Linked DNA regions of Homo sapiens: region 1 is linked to region 2. Evidence: fine-mapped expression QTL. Tissue or cell type: whole blood. Region 2 holds a variant in brackets; the other region holds the start of a gene. All regions are shown on one strand. Distances are between the middles of the regions.

Evidence for each region. PIP is the estimated chance that this variant, and not a neighbour inherited with it, causes the effect.
Region 1: it holds the start of BTNL8, and the variant in region 2 is fine-mapped to the expression of BTNL8 in whole blood (GTEx, PIP above 0.99).

The regions. Positions count from the first base shown.
Region 1 is chr5:180,894,793-180,902,901 of GRCh38, forward strand. BTNL8 (butyrophilin like 8) reads left to right here and starts at 4,367. Exons shown (of 8, transcript NM_001040462.3): 1 at 4,367-4,567. The coding sequence starts at 4,519.
Region 2 is chr5:180,993,042-181,001,150 of GRCh38, forward strand. BTNL3 (butyrophilin like 3) reads left to right here. Exons shown (of 8, transcript NM_197975.3): 2 at 1-119; 3 at 4,172-4,447. Among named protein-coding and RNA genes, the nearest start is that of BTNL3, 8.2 kb to the left of the region's middle. The variant T/G (reference allele first, on the strand shown) is at 4,627.

The sequences.
Region 1 (8,109 bases), 98 kb before region 2:
ACTTCATGACTAAAACACCAAAAGCAATGGCAACAAAAGCCAAAATAGACAAATGGGATCTAGTTAAACTAAAGAGCTTCTGCACAGCAAAAGAAATGATCATCAGAGTGCACAGGTAACCTACAGAATGCGAGAACATTTTTGCAATCTATCCATCTGACAAAGGGCTAATATCCAGAATCTACAAAGAAGTTAAACAAATCTACAAGAAAAAAAAATCTGATCAAAAAGTGGGTGAAGGATATGAACAGACACCTCTCAAAAGAACACATTTATATGGCCAACAAACATGAAAAAAAGCTCATTATCACTGGTCATTAGAGAAATGTAAATCAAAACCACAATGAGATACCATCTTGTGCCAGTGAGAATGGTGATCATTAAAAAGTCAGGAAATGACAGATGCTGGAGAGGATGTGAAGAAATAGGAATGCTTTTAGCCTGTTGGTAGGAGTGTAAATTAGTTCAACCATTGTGGAAGACAGTGTGGCGATTCCTCAAGGATCTAGAACAAGAAACACCATTTGACTCAGCAATCCCATTACTGTATATACCCAAAGGATTACAAATCATTCTACTATAAAGACACATGTACACATATGTTTATTGTGACACTGTTCACAATAGCAAAGACTTGGAACCAACCCAAATGCCCATCAATGATAGGCTGGATAAAGAAAATGTGGCACATATATACTATGGAATACTATGCAGCCATAAAAAAGGATGAGTTCATGTCCTTTGCAGAGACATGGGTGAAGCTGGACACCATCATTCTCAGCAAACTAACACAAGAACAGAAAACCAAACAGTGCATGTTCTCACTCATAAGTGGGAGTTGAACAATGAGAACACATGGACACAGGGAGGGGAACATCACACACCAGGGCCTGTCGGAGGGTAGGGAGCTAGGGGAGGGAGGGGTAGCATTAGGAGAATTACATAATGTTGATGATAGTTTGATGGGTGCAGCAAACCACCATGGCACATATATACCTAAACCTGCACTTCCTGCACATGTATCCCAGAACTTAAAATATAATAATAATAATAATAAAGGGGTATTGAAATTCCCCAGTATTTTTGTTTTGCTATGTTTTCCTCATGTCCACTAATATTTGCTTTATATGTTTACACACCTTGATGTTGGTTGCATATTTATAATTGTTACAGTCTGATTAACTTATTTGCTTATTATTACTTAAAGACAATCTTAGTCTCTTGTAACAGTTTTTGACTTCTGGCCTACTTTATCTGACATAAATATAGTCACCCCTGCTTTCTTTTTTTACCGTTTGCATGAAAAAATTCTTTCTTTTCACTTTATTTTTGTCCTTAAGCTTGATCTAGTCTGCCATTGAAGCTCTCTATTGTATTTTTTCATTTCCTTCATTGAATAATCTAATGGCAAGACATCTGTTTAATTTTTCTTGATGTCTATTTCTTTGCTGAATTTCTAATTTATACCATGATTTTTTTTTCCTGATTTCTTTCAATAGTCTATCTATATTATCTTGAATCTTGCTGACTTTTTATTTTTTATTTATTTTTTATTTTTTTAATTATACTTTAAGTTTTATGGTACATGTGCACAACGTGCAGGTTTGTTACATATGTATACATGTGCCATGTTGGTGTGCTGCACCCAGTAACTCGTCATTTAACATTAGGTATATCTCCTAATGCTATCCCTCCCCCCTCCCCCCACCCCACAACAGGCCCCGGTGTGTGATGTTCCCCTTCCTGTGTCCACATGTTCTCATTGTTTGATTCCCACCTATGAGTGAGAACATGCAGTGTTTGGTTTTTTGTCCTTGCGATAGTTTACTGAGAATGATGATTTCTAATTTCATCCATGTCCCTACAAAGGACATGAACTCATCATTTTTTATGGCTTCATAGTATTCCATGGTGTATATGTGCCACATTTTCTTAATCCAGTCTATCATTGTTGGACATTTGGGTTGGTTCCAAGTCTTTGCTATTGTGAATAGTGTCGCAATAAACATACGTGTGCATGTGTCTTTATAGCAGCATGTTTTATAATCCTTTGGGTATGTGCCCAGGAATGGGATGGCTGGGTCAAATGGTATTTCTAGTTCAAATCTTGCTGACTTTTAAAAATGTTATATTATTATTATTATTATTATTATTATTATTATTATTTTGAGATGGAGTCTCACTCTGTCAACCAGGCTGGAGTGCAGTGGCACGATCTCGGCTCACTGCAACCTCCACCTCTCAGATTCAAGTGATTTTCCTGCCTCAGCCTTTTTGGGGAGAGTCATGTTTCTTTGCTTTTTCATGTTTCTTGTGTCCCTGTGTTGATATATGTGCATCTGGTAGAACATTTGCCTCTCCTAACTTATAAAGTAGCTTTTCTAAGAAAAAACTTTCACTTGTTGATAGGTCCTCGGGTGCTGAGTAGGGTGTATCGGCTCTGCTTCTGGCTGGCACAGTAGCGTAGTCTCTGTGAAGCTTCTCAGCTATAATCAATGTCAGTGACAAGTGGATGCCTCAGTGGCCCGTACTGCAGTAATTTGTGGGAGTGGTGGTAGCAAAGTAGATTACACTGAGCTCAGGCACCAAGAGAGCACAACTACTCCACCAGCTCAGGTACAGCTTCCCTCGGGTGGGATGCAGGGCTGGTTTGTGTGCTGAGGGAATAAGACCAGTGTTCTGGCTTGGGCATAGCTTTTCTGGAGGTGGGGCACCAGGCCGCTTTATGTGCCAAGGGAGCACAGCTGCTCCACCATCTCAGACATTGCTTTCCTGGGGCTGAGTCTGGGGCCCCCAGTTAGTGTGCACACAAGGGGGTATTGTTGCCATTCTATTGCGCATGCTTCTCTGGGGTCAAGGTGCTTGGCTCATGCTTGAGAGGGTACAACTGCTTCACCAGGCCAGGCTTGGCTTCCTTGCTGGGTTGGACTGTTTGGTCCTTGGGGGCCAGAGCAGCCTGTAGGTTCAGAAGCCTGGGTCATGACCGTTCCACTGGGCCTAGGCCTAGGCTTCGAATGGCCATGGGTGGGGCATAGCTGCCACTGGAATGGAGAGGATACTGTGCCTTCTCAGCAGCTTCATAAAAAGGTATTTTGGTCTATATATCCTTGGTAAATCTGTATTTCTGAGACAGCATGAGATCAATAATTTTCTATTCTACTCTCTTGCTTACAACATTCAACAACTCATTTCCTTTTTTTTTTTATCACAGAGTAATATTCCATTGTATAGATGTACCATAGTTTGTGTATACATTCTATGTATCATTATTGAATGATATCTGGTTGCAAACATTTTTGGCAATTATGAATAAAGCTGCTATAAACATTCATGTGCAATTTTTCATGTGGACATATGTTTTCAAGTCATTTAGGTGAATAAAAAGCAGTGCAGTTGCTGGATTAGGTGATAAAAGTATGTTTAATTTTGCAGGAAATTGCTGAACTGTCTTCTAGAACAACCGTACCGTCTTGCATTCCTGTCAGCAATCAGTGAGAATTCCTGTTGCTCCGCATCCTCACCAGCATTTGGTGTTGTCAGTGTTCTAGATTTTAGACTAAATGCAGTGTTTTCATTTTGTCCTATTCTAGATGCTAACTTTTATTGTGATTTAGTCTCGTGAGTTGTTTTAAATTGTTACATAAGAATTTCTTAGTGTATAGAGTTTCCTATGTTTTTGAATTACTTTTTAATTTTAATTGCATTATGATTAGAGTATGTTTATTTTGATGGTTATCTGTGGAAATTTTCATTCTGATCTAGTTAAGTGGTGACTTTGTGAGTTTCCGTGTGCTTAAAAAGACTGCAAATCTCTCATTGTGGCTGCCCTGGAACTTAGTTTATATAATAAATAAGTTTCCTCATGTCTGAACCTGCCCAGGCACCTTTCCCAATGTATCAGATGTTTAACACTAAGGATCTGTTTTGTTCTGGAAAGTTATTTTTATCTGGCCTCATGATTACAGTCCTGGCCCTGAACTTCAGAGAATGGAGGGGTAAGCAAAAGGACCTCAGACTGTGCCAGGAAATGTCAAGTCACCTGCTGTAGGCTACTACTAATGGAGCATGGCCTATTTACTTGGACACCAAACTATCCAGTGCTAACATGAGGTTTTTCAGGACTAGATCCCATGGCCATACAGCCCTGCCTGCCAGATTGGACGTGAAAAGTATTTCCGCATCTGACATTCCTGTTTCACCCACACAGGGCATCGTTTTGCCCAGGACAAAGTTCACCTCCAATCTTATCCACACTATTTCTATCTTTGCTTCCTTGATAAGATATAGACATTTATGCAGTGGTTCAAAGTCTAGAGTCCCTACACTTCTGGTACATGACAGCTGTGTCTCGATGGAGTAGACTCTCAGAACAGCGCAGTTTGCCCTCCGCTCACGCAGAGCCTCTCCGTGGCTTCCGCACCTTGAGCATTAGGCCAGTTCTCCTCTTCTCTCTAATCCATCCGTCACCTCTCCTGTCATCCGTTTCCATGCCGTGAGGTCCATTCACAGAACACATCCATGGCTCTCATGCTCAGTTTGGTTCTGAGTCTCCTCAAGCTGGGATCAGGTAAGACTCATCTTTGTTTCCTCCTTACTAACTAACAGTTTGAGTTCTTTAGCTACAATGGTTGCAGCATAATGGAATGAAGGCATCTTTGTCGTTTCCATTCCTTTGGCTTCTCCTAGCCTCAGCCTGGGGAAGGATCAGGCGCTGTGGAAACAATTATAGTAGCCCCCAAATAATGGAAACACGGGTGTTGAAGACGCACCGTGATCGTTGACGGGGACACACCTAACGTGTTAAGGTGAATAAATTCAGTGTTTCTCCCAGATGGGCTGAGTGGTGTAGGCAGGGTTATTGGAGCACCAAGGTTGCTGACATGGATGTCCATCTGGGAAGAGACACAGTTAGGATTTTTGGGGAAAAGACAATGTATCCAGCTAAAGACATGCTGAGTTAGAAATGTCTGTGGTATGAGACACGAGGGTGGAGGAAGGTGTACAGGTCTTGAGGTGAGAAATTAGCTGAAACCTGGCATATTCTGGGAAGAAATCCACTCTTCTTTCTCCTTCCAGTTACTGTTAACACAGAACCTAGTATATAGGATGTTGAGTGACTGAATACAATTCACAGAGGAAGCTTGAGGTTGGGGTAGAATGCTGGTGGCTAGATGGTCAGTACCCAGCCACAGAAGATTCGATTGACTGTGTTCACTTTCTGTCTGTGAAGGTTCATCCTGCCACCTGTCCACCTATATCTTTTTTGCTAAATGAAGCTAAGAAAACAGAAATAAGGGCAATCAAAACATAGAGCATGTTTCCTTAAAACAAAAACCCATATGTGTTACTAACAGGAGACGCTCTCGTTTCAGTTTGTTTTCATTTATTTTCTGACGAGCTTCTTTGTTTCCCTTCTGTTTCCGGGTGAGGCAGCAGGACATCCTGGAAATGATCTTGGAGACAGAAACATTTTATTTTTAAAAACTCTTATTTCATTTTCTTGTGAGCTTTATTGTTCACAGCTTCCTTAGGTGTTGGTTTGCTTATGATGACATGGAGATACGATCACATTCCTGCTGGGGCTGTGGTGAGGACTGCATGAGCTTGTGCATGTAGAGTGCACACAGCTGCACGGGTGCATGGCATGTTGCAGCAACAGTCTTGTTCCTTTCTTATTTTCAAGGGAAGGAAGTGGAAGGAGTGAAAGGAGATGTTATAGGCAAGAGAGGTGACAGCAGCAAGGGCTGGCCGGAGAAATGGAGGTACCCTGAAAAATGTTTCCTTGCCTCAAGAGCCCCACACAGCCCTGAAGGCAGCATCCATAGCAGCCCAGCTGGCATACGCTGGGTCCCCAAACCTGACCTAAGACAAGGGCCTTCCTGCCAGTGATTCGTTGAGCAGGTGATTCTGGGAAACAAAGTGAGGGAGTGGAGAGAGTGAAGCCAGTAGGGGGAAAGCCATAGAGGGTGCGCTAATGAGCGTTGCTGCGGTGGCAACTGGGACCCAGTCCCACTGGGACCTTTGGAGGAACTTTATAGATGGTGGCTCAGAGTCATTCCAACATCTACTGTCTCCTTTCCCCACTGGGTGAGATGTGCCGCCCAGGACTGCTAAAATCGCAAACCTTCTGAGCTGCCTTGTGCCAGGGCTAAGTAGGTTCCAAGGGTGGCAGGAAGCCCTCAGCAGAGAGGCAGAGGCCAGGCTCCAGGGACGGAGCTGTCAGCAGGCAGGGAAATGCCCATCCCACTGCAGGGGGACTCAGGGTTGGGTGGTGAGGAGCAGGGCCTCAACATCTGCTACACCAGGTCAGAAGCTGGTCAGACACCAGGCTGCAAAGTCATGCCTCATTTAATAATACTCTTAAAGATGCATGAGTGAAATACATTTCAGCAAGATTTATAAAATGTAATTAAACTAAAAAATTAGTGCTAAAATGAAAAAGTATCCACTGATCTAGAAATTCACACATGTAATTCACCTTCCCTCTGATGCACATGCAGACAGCACACACAGGTATATCCATATACCATAAATGGATACATGTGAATGAATCAAGAGACACTGCCAGTCAAAGGGGGTGGGTACTTAGAAGGTGAAGGGAGTGGGCCTCCATAGTCTGTGGTCTCTAAGAAGCAGTGTAATCCTTACAGGGTAGTAAGAGTGATTTACACCAGGAAAATTACTCAAATGATTGTTAAACAGATGAGCAAGTAAGAAAGGAAATGGGGCTCACCGTTCACATGCATAACTGTGGAGCCTGTTCTGTGTGACTGGCTCTGTGCTGATCAAGTGGGTACTATGCTGAGCAAGAAAATCAGGCCCTGTCCCCAGAGAGCCAAGAGCTGTGCAGGGGAGGCTCACAGAAAACATGTAATTGTCACACTTGAAGCAAGACAATGAAGAAAGTTTCAAAAGCGAGGTGAGGACATACATGTACCAAGAATTTTTTTTAAAAAAAATGAAGGCAAGACATGTTGACAAAGCACTAGGCGAACCACCTTTCAGTGCTAAAATAAAGTGGAAAAAATTACTACACAAGCGTAAAAGGCACATGCTATGGAAAATATAAGTCACACGTGAACGTGCTAAAGAACAAATTTACAGAAAACAGACTGCAAAATCTTGTTTCAGTGTCACAGCATGTCTTTCAGAACTTGGCAGAACAAGCAGATTTTCAAAAAAAACTAAGGAAGTACAAATAATTGTGTGCGCCATGGGCAGAAATGTAACATTCCTCTATAGTAGCCATAAAATATTGATATAATATTGTGCTTGAAGGAAACCTTAACGAATTGCCGCAAACTGGAGACTTTATGGCCCATACTCTTCTCTGGGCCATTAGAAAGACGTCAACTTTGGTTTTCAGCAAGGACGATGGAAATGGGGATGTTTGGGTTTTTTTTTTAATTGAAGCAAATGGGCAGATGGGAGAGAATGTGGCAATAGAACCTCCTGGAATCAAAGGGTCTACATTCAGAAAGAGACTTTTTCCTCTGGATAACATGGTTTTCTCATCTTAAAAATAAAAACATTAATAATACACATTTCTGCAGGTGCTCCTCAAGATCGAATGAAGTAACTGATGTGGACATGGTTTGTCAAATGTAAGGAGATACACAAATGCAAGTCACTGGCTTTAGAAATAGGATTGTGATGAATGTTTCCCCCTGATGCACATCTCCAGCCCAGCCCAATGGAGCCCTGAGTAGGTCACACTATAAAGGGTTTTTTTTTTTGTTTTTGCTTTTATACTTTAAGTTTTAGGGTACATGTGCACATTGTGCAGGTTAGTTACATATGTATACATGTGCCATGCTGGTGCGCTGCACCCACTAACTCGTCATCTAGCATTAGGTATATCTCCCGATGCTATCCCTCCCCCCTCCCCCTACCCCACAACGTCCCCAGAGTGTGATATTCCCCTTCCTGTGTCCATGTGATCTCATTGTTCAATTCCCACCTATGAGTGAGAATATGCGGTGTTTGGTTTTTTGTTCTTGCGATAGTTTACTGAGAATGATGATTTCTAATTTCATCCATGTCCCTACAAAGGACATGAACTCATCATTTTTTATGGCTGCATAGTATTCCATGGTGTATATGTGTCAC
Region 2 (8,109 bases):
AGGGGGGCGTGTCTCTCTAAGGCTAAAAAACATCACTCCCTCGGACATCGGCCTGTATGGGTGCTGGTTCAGTTCCCAGATTTACGATGAGGAGGCCACCTGGGAGCTGCGGGTGGCAGGTCAGTTGTTTATTTATGACTGAGTTGTCTTGTAAAGTCATGCTACCATTATCAGCTCTTAAAAGTATTTCAGATAATGAAATAAAACAGACTTTCCAGATTCTGACATGATGTAAAAAGGCTTCGGTGGGGATCACTGACCTGAGGTTTCTGGAGATGAGCCTGGCCCTGCCATCACACAGGTGGGATCATGATGCAGAAGACAGCCACCTGCACCTGCCACCACCTGACAGGATACAGAGGAAAGCCACTCCCAATGTTGGTGAAATGAGAGTGATAATGCCTGTCATATTTCAATTTCTTTTATTTTCTTCTTTTTTCTTGACTTCTTGTGTGTTACTAAACTTTTTTTAGGATTCCATCACAACTTATTGTTAGTCTTTTTTTAGTATAACATTTTGTAGTGTTTTCTTAGGTGCTGCTTTAGGTGTTATGATATTCATATATAATTTATCACAATCTACTATATCAACATTTTACCACTTTGAAGTGTGGAAACTTCATTTTCATTCAGAGCCCTTCAAACTCCACAATTTAAAAATAACATTGCCTTGAGTATTTCTTCTATATACATAAGCACTATATCAGATAGTGACTTAATTTCTGTTTAAACCATCATATATAATTTTCATTTTTATTTTTTATTTTTTATTTTTCTTTGAGACAGTCTTGTCCCGTCACCCAGGCTGGAGTGCAGTGGTGTGATCTCAGCTCACTGCAACCTCCACCTCCTGGATTCAAGTGACTCTTGTACCTCAGCCTCCTGAGTAGCTCAGATTACAGGCATGCGCCACCACACCCAGCTAATTTTTTTTTGTATTTTTAGTAGAGATGGGGTTCTGCCATGTTGGCCAGCTGGTCTCAAACTCCTGGCCTCAAATGATCCCCTGCCTTGGGCTCCCAAAATGCTGGGATTACAGGTGTGAGCCACCACACCCAGCACATATGTGATTGTTAAACACTAATAAAATGGAAAATCTATTGTAGTTTTCCTTATTCTTCTTTTTCTATTGCTTTTCTTCTTTCCTAATATTCCAAGATTCTTTCTTTTATCATTTCCTTTCTGTTTGAAGAATTTCCTCCAGCCATCCTTTTAGGATAGGTCTGCTAGTGACAAATTCTCTTAGTTTTTGTTTATCTGAGAATAAATATGCAAAAGATTTCCTCTTTATTTGTGAATAATGGTTTTGCCAGATATAGAATTTCTGAGTTTCTTGATGGTTATTTTCTTTCAGCAGTTGAAAAATGTGCTACTTCTTTCTGGCCTTGAAGATTTCTCACGAAAAATCTGCTGTCATTGGTGTTTTCTTTATTTTCAGAAATTTAATTATGATCTATCAAGGCATGGGTTTCTTTACATTTCTCCTATTTGGTGTGCTCTCAGCTTCTTGAATCTGTAGTTTCATGACTTTCACCTCATTTGATTAGATCAGCCATCATTTCTTTAAATACTCTTTCAGCTCTCTCTCTTTCTCCTCTCCTTCTGGGACTATGATGATATAAATGTTGATATTTTGTTATTGTCTCATAGGTCCTTGAGGATCTGTTTTTCCCTTTAAAAAAATATTTTCCTCTCTTTTCATGCTGGTTAAGTTTCATTGTTGTATCCTGGAGTTCAATAATTTTTTTTTTTTTTTTATGAGATGGAGTCTCGCTCTGTCGCCCAGGCTGGATAGAGTGCAGTGGTGCAATCTCGCTCACTGCAAGCTCTGCCTTCCGGGTTCACGCCATTCTCCTGCCTCAGCCTCCGGAGTAGCTGGAACTACAGGCACCTGCCACCACGCCCGGCTAATTTTTTTTGTATTTTTAGTAGAGACGGGGTTTCACCGTGTTAACCAGGATGGTCTTGATCTCCTGATCTCATGATCCACCCGCCTTGGCCTCCCAAAGTGCTGGGATTACAGGCCTGAGCCACCATGCCAGGCCAATAATTTTATTTTCTGTCATCTCCACTCTAGCATTGAAGCTACCCAGTTAGTTTTTGTTTTTGCATTTTTTTCTGTTATATTACTTCTGATTTGTTTTTTATAACATCTATGGTTTTTGTTTTTTAAATTTTTTGAGAGAATTCATAATTGCTTTTTGAAACATTTTAATAATAGCTATTCATGTTGGTCTTGGCAATCACATGATTGTCTATTTTCATTCAAGTTGATATTTAATTGGTTCTTGGTATGATGGGTAATTTTTAGTTGAAATCTAAATGGTTTAACTATTGTAAGATACTCTAGACCCTATGTAAAGCTTCTGTTTTGCAGGCAGTCACCATGTTTAGATTTATGACTCAGGTCCTAGTCTATTTTTGGTGGTTGTGGCTCCAAATACAATTTAATTTTCAGAGACTTTACTGTGTTATTTTGGTCTACTTTGCTTAACTGATGTCACTGGAGATTCTGCTCATCCTTTCTAGTACTAACTGTGGCAGTAAAAGGTGTTTTCCCATGTTGCTCCTCACTGTTTCTTGTGAGAGAGGTGATCATCTGGCATAGTGGGAAAAAGTACTCTTCCCCTGGTCTCCAGTCAATGGGGCTTATGATCAATTCTTTTGCCAGCACCACTTTGTATATCATGTATTTTCAGCCATTTAGGGGTGGAAAGATTCCCGCTGGGCCACCTACTTCTGCTGGAGGTGGGAGTGGGGGAGTGGTCATAGGATGCTCAGCTGCTGTGTTTTTTTTCTACTCCTGGGGTCCCTAGTCAGTCCTCCTTAGTCTTTCCACTTTTCAAAATGCACCTATGCTTGCCGCATTTCTAGGGTTTATGATTTTACTTAGAGAAAGGAGCAAGGAAGAGAAGTCTACATCATCTTACTTGAGCCCCCTTCCTTGGTGCTTACACCACCATCATTCTTTCATTAATTTATTGACTAACAAACATTTATTAGGCTCCATGCACTGATCCAGACCCTAGGGAATGACAGAGTACAACACTCAGAGAGGAAGTTCTGTTTGGAGTGGTTAAAAGGCAATATTAAATCATAAAATTGAAGTCAACCACATAAGAGGTACTTTTGCATATTTCCCAAGTCACAAATCTGAATGTCACAATAAACCCTTCCTTGATGTTCAGTCCTATTGATTCAACCTCTCAAATAGATTCTGCACCTGCCGTTCCCCTTCTCAGAGCCCTCCTCCTCCCCAGCCCTTCTTTTCTCTCACTGGAGTCACTTCAGTAGTTGCATGGCGGGTCACTCTCCTCCGGAGTGTTCTCTATGGTCCCTCCTCCATGCTGCTGCCTGGAGACCTCTCTAACATACAGGCCTTGCCATAACTCCCACCTGCTGGAAGCTGGTAAGAGCCTTACTGGTCTACAGTTCTTAAAGTGGCTGTGGGCAAGTCCACGTTGCTCAGGTCAGTGAAGGTATGACCTCCACGGCTTGCCTTGTGCCTTTTTCAGATCTTGTCTCACACCCCTACTCTCTTATACATCATCTGGAATATAAATATTCATGAGTCCTTGAAATCACTGTGGCATGTTAACTTTTCACATTGTGGTTTGTACTTGCCTCTTTTTGTCTAAAATGCTTCCCCTCTCCCAGACCTGACCACAACAAAACTCCTATTTTCTGACACAGAAGGGTGCAAATGTCATCTCCAGGAAGCTGTGCCTTTCCCTGACAGTTAAGCACTCTTCTCTGTGCTAACCTGACCATGCTTTCATAGTTGCCATTTCACTATGAAATGTATTTTATACAGTTTCCTCACTATTTGATCAATGAGTTTCTCATTAGAAGGGGCTGTGTCTTATTCACTGCATCCTATTTCATACTTAGGAATATCCAGGCATATATAGTGGCTGCTAAATAAATGTTGAATGAACATAGACCATGGAAGGGCTTGCAGTAGTAGCATGAGTGGATGTGTGTGTAAGAGAGAGAGAGAGAAAAAGATGTGTGTGTAAGAGACAGAGAGAAAAGGATGTGTGTGTGTGAGAGAGAGAGAGAGAGAAAAGGATGTATGTGTGTTATGGGTACAGGCTTGATGAACCAGACTCAAAATGCTGTAAGCTTGAAATTTGGTCTTTGCTTTCATCTTTCCCTGTTTTCTTCCCAGCACTGGGCTCACTTCCTCTCATTTCCATCGTGGGATATGTTGACGGAGGTATCCAGTTACTCTGCCTGTCCTCAGGCTGGTTCCCCCAGCCCACAGCCAAGTGGAAAGGTCCACAAGGACAGGATTTGTCTTCAGACTCCAGAGCAAATGCAGATGGGTACAGCCTGTATGATGTGGAGATCTCCATTATAGTCCAGGAAAATGCTGGGAGCATATTGTGTTCCATCCACCTTGCTGAGCAGAGTCATGAGGTGGAATCCAAGGTATTGATAGGAGGTGAGTGGGGAGAAGGAGGAGCAAGGAATGGGTGTGTGCATACGTAACCCAGGGTAGAGCAGCAGCTTGTGTCTGGGATTGTTGTGTAGTACCATCCAGCTTCAATGATTTGTTTTGAGAGTCAAAGATTGATGAGGTATAAAAAACAAAACCAAACATTTGATAAGGCAGAAGTAGAA[T/G]AGTTTACAATTTCAAGGCAGTAGAATTAAGTATTTCCTTCACCACACAATACCCCCATGGTGCAACACTCACAACTCAACACGTAACAAAACTTAAGGAAATTAACTCTAGGACTAAGAAAATAATTGTTTCTTCATTTTTAGAAAACGTCGTTGCTCCTTCATGAAGCAGAATAAAACTGTAGAAAATTTCAGAAAGGATTTACAAATAGTAGGAAAATTTACATAAACTAAAATGCTTCCAGAATCACACTCAATTAAAAGGATTGAATTTGCCAGTTAAAAGACAAAGAATCTCAGACTGGATTTAAAAATCTCATCGCTTGAACCCAGGAGGCAGAGGTTGCAGTGAGCCGAGATGGCACCACTGTGCTCCAGCCTGGGTGGCAGAGCAAGACTCCATCTCAAAAATGTAAAAATAAAAATAAAAATAAAAATAGACAAATACTAAAAATCTCAATGGCAATTCATAAGAGGAAAAATGTAGCACATATGAGCTATTCATTGAAAATAAAAAATACTCGAGAAATATTAATCACGAAGAATTGAACAGATATATTAGTGTCAAGAAAAGGAAGACAAAGTTGTAAGAAAAAGGGCATTAGGGATAGAGTTATTTCAAAAACATAAGTTCACTCAGTATAAGAATATGAAAATTTTAAATATATATACATGTACCTTATACATGTAAAACATAGAAAATATCAACAGAAATAAGAAAAAAGGTCATACTTCGAGTTCTAAAATTGATTAAATAAGTAGACAAAATGAGTAAGAATATATACTATTTGAACTAAAAATTAATAAGTCTGAAATAACGTATTTTTGGAGATGGCACTCCAGGTTTGTAGAATATACATTAATTTTTACCACACTTGGAACTTTTATAAAATTTTACCAGATATAAACACATACAATGGTTTTAAGAAAATTTTCAGACATAGATATCATGCACATGAAATTCTCTAATCATAATTTAATAAAGTCAAATGACCACAGCAAAAGATAGTTTAAATTCTTATGTGTTTGAAAAATTTTTAAACATTAAAATAACTGAGAAATTGAAGAAAGCATAGTGATAGGTAGAAAATTCTTAAAACTGAATGATAATAAAATTACAATCTATCATAATGTGTAAAATAGAACTAATATAGTTTTCTGAGTCAAAATTTTATCTGGCCGGGCGCAGTGGCTCACGCCTGTAATCCCAGCACTTTGGAAGGCCAAGACAGGCGGATCACCTGAGGTCAGGAGTTCAAGACCAGCCTGGCCATAATGGTGAAACCCCGTCTCTACTAAAAATACAAAAATTAGCCGGGTGTGGTGGCGGGTGCCTGTAATCCCAGCTACCTGGGAAGCTGAGGCAGGAGAATTGCTTGAACCCGGGAGGCGGAGGTTGCGGTGAGCCGAGATCATGCCACTGCACTCCAGCCTGGGCGATAGAGCAAGACTCCATCTCAAAAATATATATATATATATCCTTTAATGCTTAAATGTTCTTATTAGCATGAAATAGCTGAATATTGATATTAGGCATCAATATATATTTCAGAAAACAGCAAAAGAAAGTGGAAGAAATCCTAAAGATATAGAAATATGGAAATATAAAGACAAATAGTGCACATTAATACATCTAAAGTTAGACGGTTCGAAGTGTTATTAAAATAGATAAACTGGCAACATCAGTTAAGAATAAAAGAGAAACAGCACAATTAAACAAGGCAGGAAATAACAAGAAGGCACAACTAAAGATTTAGTAGAGATTTGTAAGATAAACTGCTTTGAATAACTTTTTCCTTTTCTATTGAATATGATGAAGTGAAAGTTTTCATAGAAAAATGTAAAATACAGGACAGGCGCAGTGGCTCATGCCTGTAGTCCCAGCAGTGTGGAAGGCTGAGGCGGGCAGATCGCTTGAGGTCAGGAGTTTGAGACCAGCCTGCCCAACATGGCGAAACCCCATCTCTACTAAAAATACAAAAATTAGCTGGGCGTGGTGGTGTGTGTCTGTAATCCCAGCTACTCTGGAGGCTGAGGCTGGAGAATCACTTAAATCCAGGAGACAGAGATTGCAGTGAGCTGAGATCGCCCCACTGTACTCCAGCCTGGGGGACAGAGTGAGACTTTGTCTCAAAAATTTTTAAAAAAGAAGAAAAACGTAAAATACAAAATCCGAAGGAAAGATAGACTACCTGACTAATTTGTAACCATGAAAGAGGTGGACTCAGCATTTAAAAGTCTTCCCACAAGGAAGACACAAGGCCCACATTGTTTTATATACAAAGTCTACCAAATATTCAAGAAAAGAGAAAATGTATCTTTCAGAAAGTCGGCCAGAGAGCAGAAAAATAGGAAATATTAAACTCATTTTATTGAGTCAACATAATTTTGGTATCATAAGAGAAATGGGCAATTCAAAAAAGGAAAAATTTTTACCAACATTACTCATAATTGAAAATGTAAAAATCTTACCAAAAATTTTGCAAGTAGAAAAGTCCACAAAAACATATATCATGACCAAACTTATCCTGGAAAAAAATGTTAGGTCAACATGGGAACATATATTAATGTAATTATAACATAATTCGTTAAAAGAGATAAACTATAATTTTCTTAGTAGATGTAAATAAAACAGATAACTTTCTACATCTATTCATCATGATTTCAACACTTGCAAATCTAGAAATAGAAGAAAATTTTTTTTATCAATCTAGAAATAGGAGAGACTCTGCTTAATCTGATAAAAAGATATCTAAAGATACTTGCAGCAAACATCATACAAAATAATAAGCCACCTAATTTTTTAAATACATACCGAAAACATTATACATAATGTGTCATTTAAAATCATAACATAGGCCGGGCGCGGTGGCTCACGCCTGTAATCCCAGCACTTTGGGAGGCCGAGGCAGGTGGATCATGAGGTCAGGAGATCGAGACCATCCTGGCTAACAAGGTGAAACCCCGTCTCTACTAAAAATACAAAAAATTAGCCGGGCGCGGTGGCGGGCGCCTGTAGTCCCAGCTACTCGGGAGGCTGAGGCAGGAGAATGGCGTGAACCCGGGAAGCGGAGCTTGCAGTGAGCCGAGATTGCGCCACTGCAGTCCGCAGTCCGGCCTGGGCGACAGAGCGAGACTCCGTCTCAAAAAAAAATAAAATAAAATAAAAAAATAAAATAAAATAAAATAAAATCATAACATAAGGAGATTGCATTAAACACTTCTGTTCCACATTATATTAGAGTACTGTTACTATTAGCAGCCACTTCAATAAGGGAAGAAAATGTAAAAGTTATAACTTTTAGAAAGAAAAAAATTAAATGGCCATTGTTCACAGTTTATATGATGATATAAACGGAAAATTTAGAAAAATTTACAGACAAATTCTTTCAACTCATAAAGGAATCCATCGTGTTCATGAAAAATGAGAGGAATAAACAAAATCTAATAAAATGTTTACAAAATCTTATTGAAGGGTATTAT